Regions from separate parts of the Homo sapiens genome. Here regions 2, 3 and 4 are each linked to region 1. Evidence: fine-mapped expression QTL. A gene starts in region 1. Each other region holds a variant in brackets. All regions are shown on one strand. Distances are between the middles of the regions.

Region 1 (2,690 bases):
ACAATTCTTATTATCTCTCAAATCACATTGCATCCACCAAAACGATATGTCCTACAACACCACTGTTCAGCCATTTTCTCTTAAAACTCTTTTGGCTTCTAAAAGTGAAGCATCACTTTATTTTTCTCTATCCCATTTGTCATAAGATTAAGGACTCTGAACCTATACATAAAATAATATTAAAGCCACTGGAGGCGATACATGCAAGGGCTTGGGATAAATCCAGCTTCCGTGTGAATATTTCTTCTGTAATGTGTTAATTAATTTGTTCTATAGGATGTTAAAAGGGTTTCTTTCTCACAAGCAAGGAACTCTAGATGCCCATTTCTCTGAATCTGTGCTAGCTGGGCACCCCTAGGGGGCGCTCCGTCTCTCAAAATACAAGGGGCTGACAGCAGCGTGCCTCTGGGTGAGGCTCACTCTAGGGGTGTGGCCTCACGGAGAACCTCAACCCACAAGAGTTTGGCTTAGAAACAAGTTTGAAAACCTCTTCAGGTCCAGAGCCTTTAAATAATGCCTGCTATGCGCTAAGACAGCCCTGGGTATCCAGAGTTCACAAAGCAAGGACTGATTTCCTTTCGCCTTGACAGCCTCAGCAAAAGTGGAAGGGGGTTTGCAGAATTGCACTATTAGCAGCGTCCACCCGAAGGTCTGCACAGAATTAGACTGAGCTGATTCTGGACAAAGCCCACTGTGTACCTTTATCTACTGGGCAAAAGTTACCCCCAACACCTGCTATAATCGACTCATTTTAGGAGCAAAATGTCAGGCCATGAAGCATCAGATCATTGAAAGACCCAATTAATTAGTCCAGGAAAGGAGTAATAAGAACATCTGTGATCTGAGTTCCATACTAAGACACAGAGAGACGACTGAGTTATTCTGGTGCTTGCTGTCTGAGGTCCAGACAGTACTTGTGACCCTCTTATCCTCAGAAGAGTAACCACAATTCCCTGGAGTGAAGAATATCCCAATTCACTCATGGAGTTCACTTTAGTCTCATTCTCGACCTTTGTCACCAATTGGCTAAGGCTATTTGTTTTTCCAATTCTGTATTAGGAAAAAGAAGTTGCACAGAGGATCAGACATCAGATACGTTTCTAAATTCTGCAGCTCTGGGTGGGCAGCCTCATTTGGGGAAATGCTAGCTGCTGTTTCCAAAGTGGGGAAGCCCACGGTTTCGGACACAGGGCTGACAGCGCTGCTCCAGCAGCCCCCAGGGCCAGAGGAACCCGGCCTTAGCTCCGCCCCGCTCTGCCCGGCCCCGGGTGGCTGCGATGCCGAGGTCCTCTGCTCCCGCCGGGCGTGCAGCGGGCGCGCGCGCGTGTGTTTATGTGTCTGTGTGCGTGTGTGTGTGTGTCTCTCTCTGTGTGTGTGTGAGATGAATTGGAGTCATACGACTGGGTGTTTCCTTCCGAGTGGTTTTCATCAGCAATCCATTAGGAAATCATGGAAACTTTTTTTTTCCTGGCTAAAAGGATGAAAACTGAGTAAGTACATAGAACTTTGAACTTGAGACGGAATGAAACAAATTCAAGCAAAAACCCTGACAGTAACCATGTCCATTCAAATTGCGTATGCCCTTTTTATGTTAAAAGCCGTGAATACTTACAGGACAGTGGGAATTTAAAACTAAATGAAGGGAAGCATACAAAAGGCTGAAAGCAAGACTGCTTTAAAACCGGAGGAAAATTGAGGAACTGCTAAGGCAACCTGGCCTGAGTTCAGCTGTGCAACAGGCACTTTGGGTTTTAATCTTTTGCGTTCTTCAATGCTGTTTTCAGACTCCAGATATACTTTGGTATTGTTTTCTCTCTTCCTGCAAAGCTGAGGCAGAGTCGGACTCCTTTACTGTGAGTTGAAAGATGTGAGAATAAGGCATTGCTGGAAGCAACAGTTTGGCAGCCTGGGGTACACTCAGGTTATTCGTTACAACTATTATTATTTGATGTCTTTTTTTAAACTCAGGTCATCCACTTTTGACTGTCATCCATGGAAGAGCTCTTATTAAAAGCCTCAGACTTTCGGGACCTATGATTCTTTGGCACAACCTTTTGGAAAATTCTTAAGCAGGGATGAAGCAAACTTGATTGGAGTTGGGGAAAAAGAAGACAGATTAGTATTTTTCATGCTGACAAAAAATAGCTGCTATGACTTTTCCCGCAACGTGGACAGGGGCCAAGTGAAGCTGAACTGGTCATGGTCTGTCGCCCAGTGTTCCCTTGTCGTCGGCGATTTTGCCCCCGACCCTTCTTGGTGGGCTTAGTGGTGGCAATCTGTCTCTTCTACCAGACTCTGACCCTCCGAGGGTCGAGGAAGCTCACAGCCGCTGCCCCTGGGGCTGTCCCACACACATCCACTGAAACCCAGGCAAGCAGATGCAAGAAAGGATTCTCTCAGGACAAACAGTGCTTCCTTCTCTCTGGTAATGCCCAGGAAACCAGAAAGGTAAGACTCTCATAAGCTTAACGGAGACAGTTTCTGCAAAGACAGCAATCTGCTTCTCTGTCCTTTCTATAAAACTAAAATTAACTTCCATGAGGTCTGAAAGGGATCCAGAGTGTAAACAGCCTAGAGAGTGACCTGATGACTGGGAAACACGTTACATAAGCTTCAACTTCTTATAGTTACTTCCAGAAAGTTCTGGCATTACTTTATCTCTTAGGATTTCACTTCATTTCAGTGGAATG
Region 2 (2,690 bases), 74 kb after region 1:
CTGTGTCTTCTGCTTAATTTTGCTGTGAACCCAAAACAGCTATAAGAAATAAAGTCCATTAAAAAATAATTGCAATGTTAAGCTGGAGAAGCTCATCATATAAAAGTCAGTGAATCCAAATTAAAACTCCTTTGATGATGTTCCACTTAATGATGCAAATCTTATACATTTTATGATACGTGTAAAAGTAAAAATACGAAGCAGTAGGATATAGAAGAGTATTACTAGGTTTAACAATTAAAAAGTTATAATCTGTGTAATATAGTTGAGTTACTACAGCTGTATGACACATGACCCTTGAATGTTTTTACTTCTTTGTGCTGTTATTTTACTCAGTTTAACTGCTTAGTTTGGTGTTCAGTTCCAGAGTAGAATAGAGGTGATGTTTCTGGTGTCACATGTTGCTACAGTCATGTCGTCAGCCACACTATTAATTCTAAAGATGAACTTTGGAGGAAGGAACACAGGGAGAAGTCATTGTTTGGGGGACAGGAAAATAGAAGGCAGAAGGATAGAACAATTGTTTCCCTTGGCTTGGCTCTATTATTTTCAAGTGCTTTGTTGGTTAAGAGAAGGTTAGCAATGGATCAGAGTCAGTCCATAACCTTTAATGCTACTTACCCAGTGCTGATTCTCTTTCTGAATCATATTGTTAAGGATTCTATTAATTCACCAGCAACGGAATGATTTTGCCCTATTTAGGGAAAATGGCTCAATTTCATTGATTTTTGAAGCTTTTCACAGACTAATTTAGAAAGATACTTTGTGAACTTAAAAAACAAACAAACAAAAAATCTCTATTACAACACTACATTGTAAAAGTCCATACGGACACCAAAGTGTGTATTAGTCCTTTTTATTAGTCTATTATGGGTTATCTATACTTTTGCAATGCTGTTTGTTCCCTCCAGCCCTTTTTAAATTCTGGATTGAAGAATTCAGGGTTTATGAAAGCCCTTCTTTTTCTACATTTAGTTTCTGAGATTTCTCACTTTTGGATTTGAGAAATCGAGACAGCCTTAAGATTGAAAGTGTACTGCACTTACAGCCTTTTCTCAATTCTTAGTGCAAATGAATGTCAGTGACGTCCACTTTGATATGTTCTGGCTGTGTCCCCACCCAAATCTCATCCGGAATTATAGCTCCCATAATTCCCACGTGTTGTGGGAGGAACACA[A/G]TGGGAGATAATTGAATCATGGGTGCGGTTTCCCCCATCCTATTCTCGTGGTAGTGAGTAAGTCTCACGAGATCTGATGGTTTTATAAGGGATTTTCCCTTTCACTTGGCCCTCATTCGCTCCTGCCTGCCACCATGTAAGGTATGCTTTTCACTTTCTGCCATAATTATGAGGCCTCCCCAGCCACGTGGAACTGTGAGTCCGTTAAAGCTCTTATTCTTTATGAATTACCCAGTCTCGCGTATGTCTTCAGCAGCAGCATGAAAAAGGACTAATAAACACTTTGGTGTCCTTGTGGACTTTTACAATGTAGTGTTTAGGAATGCCACTGGTGCAGAATCACAATAATAGGTTCTGCTGAAGCTAGGCTTCATTCATACAGGATCTGGGCTGAAGTTTTTCCTTCTTACAGCTATTATCGGGGAAAAGAGAGTTTGCTGAACACATGAACAGGGTTAATAAAGTAGCAAGGATTGGGGAAGATTTCATCAATGCACAGTTGCCAAGCACTTTAAATGAATCAGTTTTTAGAACTGTATCTTATTGATTTGGTAAAAATCTTAGAGCAGAAGTGGAACCTAGAGACTAAAAGCTCTAAATGCTTTATTTTGCAAATGAAGAAACTGAAAAAAAAAAAAAAAAAAAAAGCAAATGATGATTCTCTTAAGTGCCCGAAGCGAGCTACCACCCCTGTTTCCAGTTGCCTCTCTTCTCCAACTGCAGCTGGGTTATTTCTATCAAGTCATGCCAGCAGGACATAGTGCTGCAATACTTTATTAGGTTAGAGTGTGTTAATTTGAAAGTAATCAATATCTCAAAAATGAATCTGATTTTCAAGCTAATTTATACTGATCTGTTGGTTTTAACAAGGTTTTCTCATATTGGGTATTAGTTTGGGGATTAAGTGGATGATGTTAATCAATTTGTAGATTCACAGGAGAAGGGAAGAATTAAAGTTGTATCTTTTATAATCTTTTCAAACTCCATATATTTGAATTTATGATAATATTTACAAAGCTGTCTAAAAACAAGTTTTGGTTGAAGTGAAGTTTTGTGGGTGACTGGGTTTTATATTTAGAAATAATCCCTTCAGTATGAAGTGAAGAATGTTTATGAAATTTTGGAACGGGTTTAACACTGAATTGCCACTAAATATCAAGTTATTTATGTTACTATATTTGTCTCAAGTATTTTCTTTTATATTTAGCAAATATCATGGCTTCAAAATATGAAAGGGTTTTCAAAAAGTGATCCCAAGGACCACTTTTAAAGCTTCCCAGGGGCAAGTTTTAGTTTTATGTTATCAAATAAGCTACTTCATTATTCTGGATTTGCATGTTGACTTGCAGAGATTTGAAGGTGGGGTGTGGGTGGTTTAGACAGTGCATCCCATCTATACTCTCTGGGTTTTTTGTGTTTGCTTGGTTTTGCTTTAGCGTTGATGAATGCCTCACTCACTAGAATCTTTTTCATTCCTTTCAGGCAAACAGATTACCAGAAATACAGCAGCCAC
Region 3 (2,690 bases), 34 kb after region 1:
GAAACATCCACGACAGATCAATCTTAACCTTTGTAATGGAAAACATATTTCACATTTTTCTTTTTATTTGTAATAAAAAAGAAGCTATAAGGAAGTCGAGCTTTAAATTGCCCATAAGTAAGACGAGCTTAACCACAATAATAACTTTCTTGGGGAGGTAGTAGGCTTTGGAAATTAAAAAGTATAAGCATTGAAGTAAGACAGAACCTAGGTTGGAGTCCTTAGTGTTACCTTTTAATGGTTACATAACCCTGGGCAAGTAACTTATCCTCTGAAAGTCTTGGTATTCTCATCTACAAGTTGATCCTTTTGAGGTTGTTTTAAGAATGGTACATAGTAATCACCCCATAAACGGGAGATAATATTGTTACTGCTGTCAAGAAGTAGTTACAGAAAGGAGAATATGACATTTCCCCTGTAGGGAGGTGTATTTAAAATATGCAGTAGTGTAAGAGTGCTGCTGTTGGATGTTATTATGGGTAAAATGAACTTGATAGGTGTTTTTCAATTTAGCCTTCTCGACTTATATGTTCTCATTAGAAGGTCTGGGTTGTAAATCCTCCTGAAATTCTGACATACTCTCCTGGATTATTCCCTTGGAAAAATCTCACATTAAAAAAAAAATCTGTAAGCTTCCTAAGGTCAGGGACCATGTCTTTTATGCTTATCATTTATAACCACACCTTCCACATAGGGGCATATGATAAATATTTATTAAATACATGAACAAAGGAAGATAAAATAGTACATCAATATTTGGGCTCCTTAAACAGCAAATTCACTCAGGAAACTCATATTAAACTTAGTTCATAAAACTTTTATTTTATTTGACTTTAGAGGAACACTGATATTCTATTTAGACTTAAGTCCACTCTTACACCAAAGATAATGAAACCATAAATATAGTATTACATAGGGCTGATAGTTTATACATCAAATGATTCTATACTGCTGGGGCTTTTGAGTACTTGTGTCCATTTTTAAGAATTTTACTCTTGCCTTGCTTTCAAGGCTCTCCTGTTACATTTGCCAGGTTACTTGACCTATTGATTTTGGGACAGGTTGGATGAGTTTCTTTCTATACATATTCAGTTATAGGTGCTGTGAATTTTCATAGGGATGTATTCAGCAGAAACTCAAGCAAGCAGAAATGCCAGGTCAGGAGATGTAGGTTTGTGGGTCATCTGCTGAGAGGTGATAATTGATTTACTGAAGGTTCAATAGCCTATAAAGCAGTGTGACACAGTGTTGCCTAAGGATGCTCTCTGGTAAAAGTAAGTATACAGCTTTTGCTACTCGCAAACATACAAAGCAAGAAGGAGGACAGTCAAAAACCGCGTCATATCACTTAGGTCCTATCTGCATCCTCTATATTATGCTCTGTAGTTTATTTCTTAGTGTAATGTAAGTTTTATTGGTCTTCCAGTTCTTTGCTTTGAAAAAACATATATTATGATCCAGAATTTTAATAACGTACTTCTCTAGAAAAAAAAGACACCATCAAATTATTATCTTTCCTATCATCCAGATGCTATTCAGTAAATCATT[G/A]TTTTACTTCATAGGATAGTAAGTGGCCAAAAAAAAAAAGATACATATTTTTCAAAGTTTTTAACCTGCTCCTGGGGTCAAGTCTCAGTAATATGTAGTTCAAAAGACTCTGACACAGAGTATATTTTATCATTTTGTCAGAATTATTTACGTATACTTCAAGAGGGTTTATTTCTACAGTTGCAGCAGAAGCCAGAACTGTAGCAGGAATGAGAAAACAGATTGTTCAACTGAAGAGAATATTTCTGGGAGGCCCTGTAGTAGTTGAACCAATATTTTTGTATTCCCATTGTTTAACAAGGTGCTTGAATGCAAGATTTATTTTTAGTAACTCAAGAGGGCATCACTAGGACCAGTTTATGGAAGGACATTTTATCTATCAGAGTTGTCCAGCAATAGAACAGCCCAGAACAAAAAGTAGGAAGTTTGGTTGCAACAGAAGCAACTCTGGGTTGCTGTATTATGTAGCAGAATGAGTGAAATAACCACCAAAGCTTTTTTACAACTCTACAGTTCTGTGGTACAATATAAGACTCAAACACACAGAATGAGAGAAAACAAGACAAAAATGTGAATCTCTATCATTGCAGGGATTCATTTTCTTTAGTCTTTGCTTTGTCTGGTGTTGCACGGGCAGAAGAGAGAAATAGCAGTCAAGGAAGAGGTGAGAAACACCAGTGTGGAGCAAATCTGGAGGTGGCCCTCTTGGACTAATAGTGCACATTTATAGCAGATGCTTCTGCTGGTAATTTAAGACTTGAGAGCCTAATGAACTTCTCTTCTCATTTCTTTCCCCCCTCTAGCCCCACACCAGCACCCTACTGCTTTCCTGAGTTTAATATGCTCTATGACTATTTAGCAGGAAGACAAAAGAGTAAAGGTCACATTTAAAAGGCACTGTGTGTTTTGCCTTGCCGGTGTTTTGCCTAGAACACGTTTGACATACGTTTTTCATTATGCAAGTAATAGGCTTTGGACGGTATCAGAAGTGCTTCTGTACTTTATTTAGTTAATCAAACTGGGGGGAAAAAAGGAATTGAATCAAAGAAACATGTAAGACTGCACTATTCTATTTTACTGGGTTATGACACACAGTAATTGTATGCTCAGGTTTATTGTTATTTTCCTCAGTGCTTATAGAT
Region 4 (2,690 bases), 290 kb after region 1:
TGGTTAGCTTAGTGTGACCCAGTTTTTCCCCAGCATTTTTGACCACAGAATGACTTTTCCTTATTTTTTTTATCACAACTATTAACACCCCACTAAACACACTTTGAGAAAATTGGCATAAGGATAAGGTCTAAAAAATCATGCATGAAGTACAGACTAAATGAGGCAGATTGACCACAAGCATTTATCTTCCCTTCCACTTGAAACCCCAAGAAAAATACTTTAAAGACATAAAGCTACTCACTCACTCCCCACCCCCCGCCACAAAGAAAAAACAGAATAACTCATAACAGACAAGAAATCTGAATTCATTTGAATTCATTCTATGAAGTTTGACTTAGCAGGCAAAATAAGGTACAACTGAAAGTGCCGAGAGAAGAGAAATACTAGCTGTGAGTGAGGCATACTTGCTGTTCAGATCCTATGCTGAAAAAGATAAGGCTGAGACACAGGTCAGAAAACAATTGGCTAGAAGTCTATGTGCAAAATTGGTAGACCCCTGAGTTCCTTACCCCAGCCCATACAGTTGGGAATCTATATCATCACATACAATATCTTTTAAAATGGAACTGCAGAAAGTCTGGACTCAGAAACACAAGTATAGTAAAGAATAAATTAATCTAGAGGCTGAAAACAGAAAGATGAAGGTAAAGTTGGCGTGTGAAGGGAGGAGCCCTGAACTTTTCCCTAGACCTCCTAGCATTCCACAGTCAGGCAGAGGGTCCCTCAGACAGGAGGCTGGAGAGCTCTTCTGACATGAAACTGAATGACCCACCGGAAGATCTTCTTTGAAAAGGCCAGAGTGGTGCTGAGCAAATTAATACAGTGAAGTCATCAGTTGGAAATGTTAGTCCCCACACAAATTGTGTAACATTTAGTGCCTTAATCTTAAATAAAATATTTAAGTTCAAGAGCGTTAGATAGAAACAAATACCTGTGTGTTAACGTCCAATAGATTCCAAGACCCAAGATGCACATCTAAATAGAGCAAAAGAGGAATTAGCTTATGCTAAGACTAGTACAGGTCATTCCAATAGTGTAAAAACTCAGCAACATAGATATTCAGCCACTTGGGAAATTGAGTTTAAGACAGGGGAATTTAGTGTCTGGGGAACTGCATGAGACTGTAAGATAGAACCAACAGTTTAATATTAAA[C/T]TGGTAAACTTCTGGTCTGGAGCTCCTTACAATCAGTCTCCGCACCTCAGAGCAGAATTTGTTCCCAGAGCCAACGCTCAGCGTTGTCCAAGGGCAGGAGTTACAAAGCCTCAGCTGTCAGAGTAAGAAGGGCTGGGGATTAGAGGAAGGGTGGGGGACAGACAATATGCTGACTGCAAATCTGGAAACACCAAAACAAAACAAAACTCATTCCTAAAGAAAGTTTTAGTCTTGCCCCCTAATCCCCAGCATCTTTGACAGATTCAGAAGTTGGATTCCCTTCAATCAAAACACAGTTTATTTCATGTGGCCATAATTAAATATTTGGGGGCAAAGGGATGAAATGAAAGAATTCCCTATTATCTGTCAAAATTGCATGATGTCCTGAAGTGAAATTATGAGTTATAAGGACTAACTTCTAGCTATTGTTTGTCACGTTATTTTTATTCCACTTTTGTGAATTCTTAGGCTACTTTTTCAGCTGGTCATAATTTGGTGACTGGATCTTGGATTGAATGCCATCTGCAGAATGACTACATCCAACAAAAAGTACTTCAACAGTATACATTTGTCTTAAGACTAACACATTTGCCTGGCCAATCTCATGTTTTCCAGCCTCAGAAAGCCATTACCCTGTCTCCTCTTCAGACCCCATCCATGATGAAACATATTTGTAATCAGAGCATCCTCTAATCCAGTATAGGACAATTTTGGAACACTTGCACCATAAAAATTGTTTTCTATTTTATTCTGTGGATCTGGAACCACATCAGAAGTTCTTTGTGGGTTATTCAGGTCAAGATCAATCTTAAGAAAGGTATTTGTTTGTAATCTGCCTGACACCTTTCCAGTTCACCAAGACTTCCCTTTTGTACTGGCTTTTTGGAAATTCAAAGTTATTTTTAGAATCAGCAGTTAATTGATATGGCAATACACACGTTCTGATGATGGTTTATGTGAAATCAATTTTGAGTGTTGAAATTACCTACATTTAATAGTGAAAGTTGCAATGTTAAGTTTGGTTTCATAATTCAAACAATTTTTTGTTCGTTTGGGAAGTCTTATAATTCCCATAGGCCAAATCCAGTCAAGTTGAATTGTGACCATTTGTATGCCTTCTAAAATGTCTCTGTACCCACGTTTTTAATGGTGTAGAGATGTGGAAAGATCTATAATTATAAACTGGCAGATCCCTTACCATATAAGGAAACTATAAAAAAGTAAATGTTATGTCTACAACCCAAAGCACAGAATTTCAATTCTTGCTACACTGAGTCACAGAAAAGTGTGATCATTTAATAGCCTATAAGATCTTATACTTATAAAACTCCATTTAGCTCCAAAATTGTTTTCCTAAATTTCTATAGTCAGTATATTTAAAATATTTGTCTTTGAAACACTGTAATTTTTACTTGAAAGTCTTGAAAGTCTTACATGTAACTTAATCAAATGTGAACATTGCTGTGAGAAAAACCATTTTTCTTATAAGACTTATGGAACAATGCTGATCAAACAGATTGTCATGCAGCATGGA

Which allele goes with the higher level. Positions count from the first base shown, and alleles are read on the strand shown. Sizes are in standard deviations (SD) of each study's normalised expression. Not every link is listed here.
With allele A in place of G in region 2, the expression in uterus of the gene that starts at base 1,289 in region 1 is lower (moderate effect, 0.41 SD a copy in GTEx).
In carriers of allele C in region 4, the expression in macrophages of the gene that starts at base 1,289 in region 1 tends to be lower than with T alone (large effect, 0.91 SD a copy in Alasoo 2018).

The links. PIP is the estimated chance that this variant, and not a neighbour inherited with it, causes the effect. A credible set is the group of variants that fine-mapping cannot tell apart.
Region 2: its variant is the best candidate, but not a certain one, in a credible set for the expression of CPED1 in uterus (GTEx, PIP 0.72).
Region 3: its variant is the best candidate, but not a certain one, in a credible set for the expression of CPED1 in whole blood (TOPMed, PIP 0.54).
Region 4: its variant is the best candidate, but not a certain one, in a credible set for the expression of CPED1 in macrophages (Alasoo 2018, PIP 0.59).

What each region holds. Positions count from the first base shown.
Region 1 is chr7:120,987,423-120,990,112 of GRCh38, forward strand. CPED1 (cadherin like and PC-esterase domain containing 1) reads left to right here and starts at 1,289. Exons shown (of 23, transcript NM_024913.5): 1 at 1,289-1,490; 2 at 1,969-2,448. The coding sequence starts at 2,200. RefSeq lists an enhancer at 465-544.
Region 2 is chr7:121,061,579-121,064,268 of GRCh38, forward strand. CPED1 (cadherin like and PC-esterase domain containing 1) reads left to right here. Exons shown (of 23, transcript NM_024913.5): 5 at 2,660-2,690. Among named protein-coding and RNA genes, the nearest start is that of CPED1, 74 kb to the left of the region's middle. The variant A/G (reference allele first, on the strand shown) is at 1,178.
Region 3 is chr7:121,021,442-121,024,131 of GRCh38, forward strand. The region is part of intron 3 of CPED1 (cadherin like and PC-esterase domain containing 1); the gene reads left to right. Among named protein-coding and RNA genes, the nearest start is that of CPED1, 34 kb to the left of the region's middle. The variant G/A (reference allele first, on the strand shown) is at 1,549.
Region 4 is chr7:121,279,196-121,281,885 of GRCh38, forward strand. The region is part of intron 22 of CPED1 (cadherin like and PC-esterase domain containing 1); the gene reads left to right. Among named protein-coding and RNA genes, the nearest start is that of WNT16, 48 kb to the right of the region's middle. The variant C/T (reference allele first, on the strand shown) is at 1,157.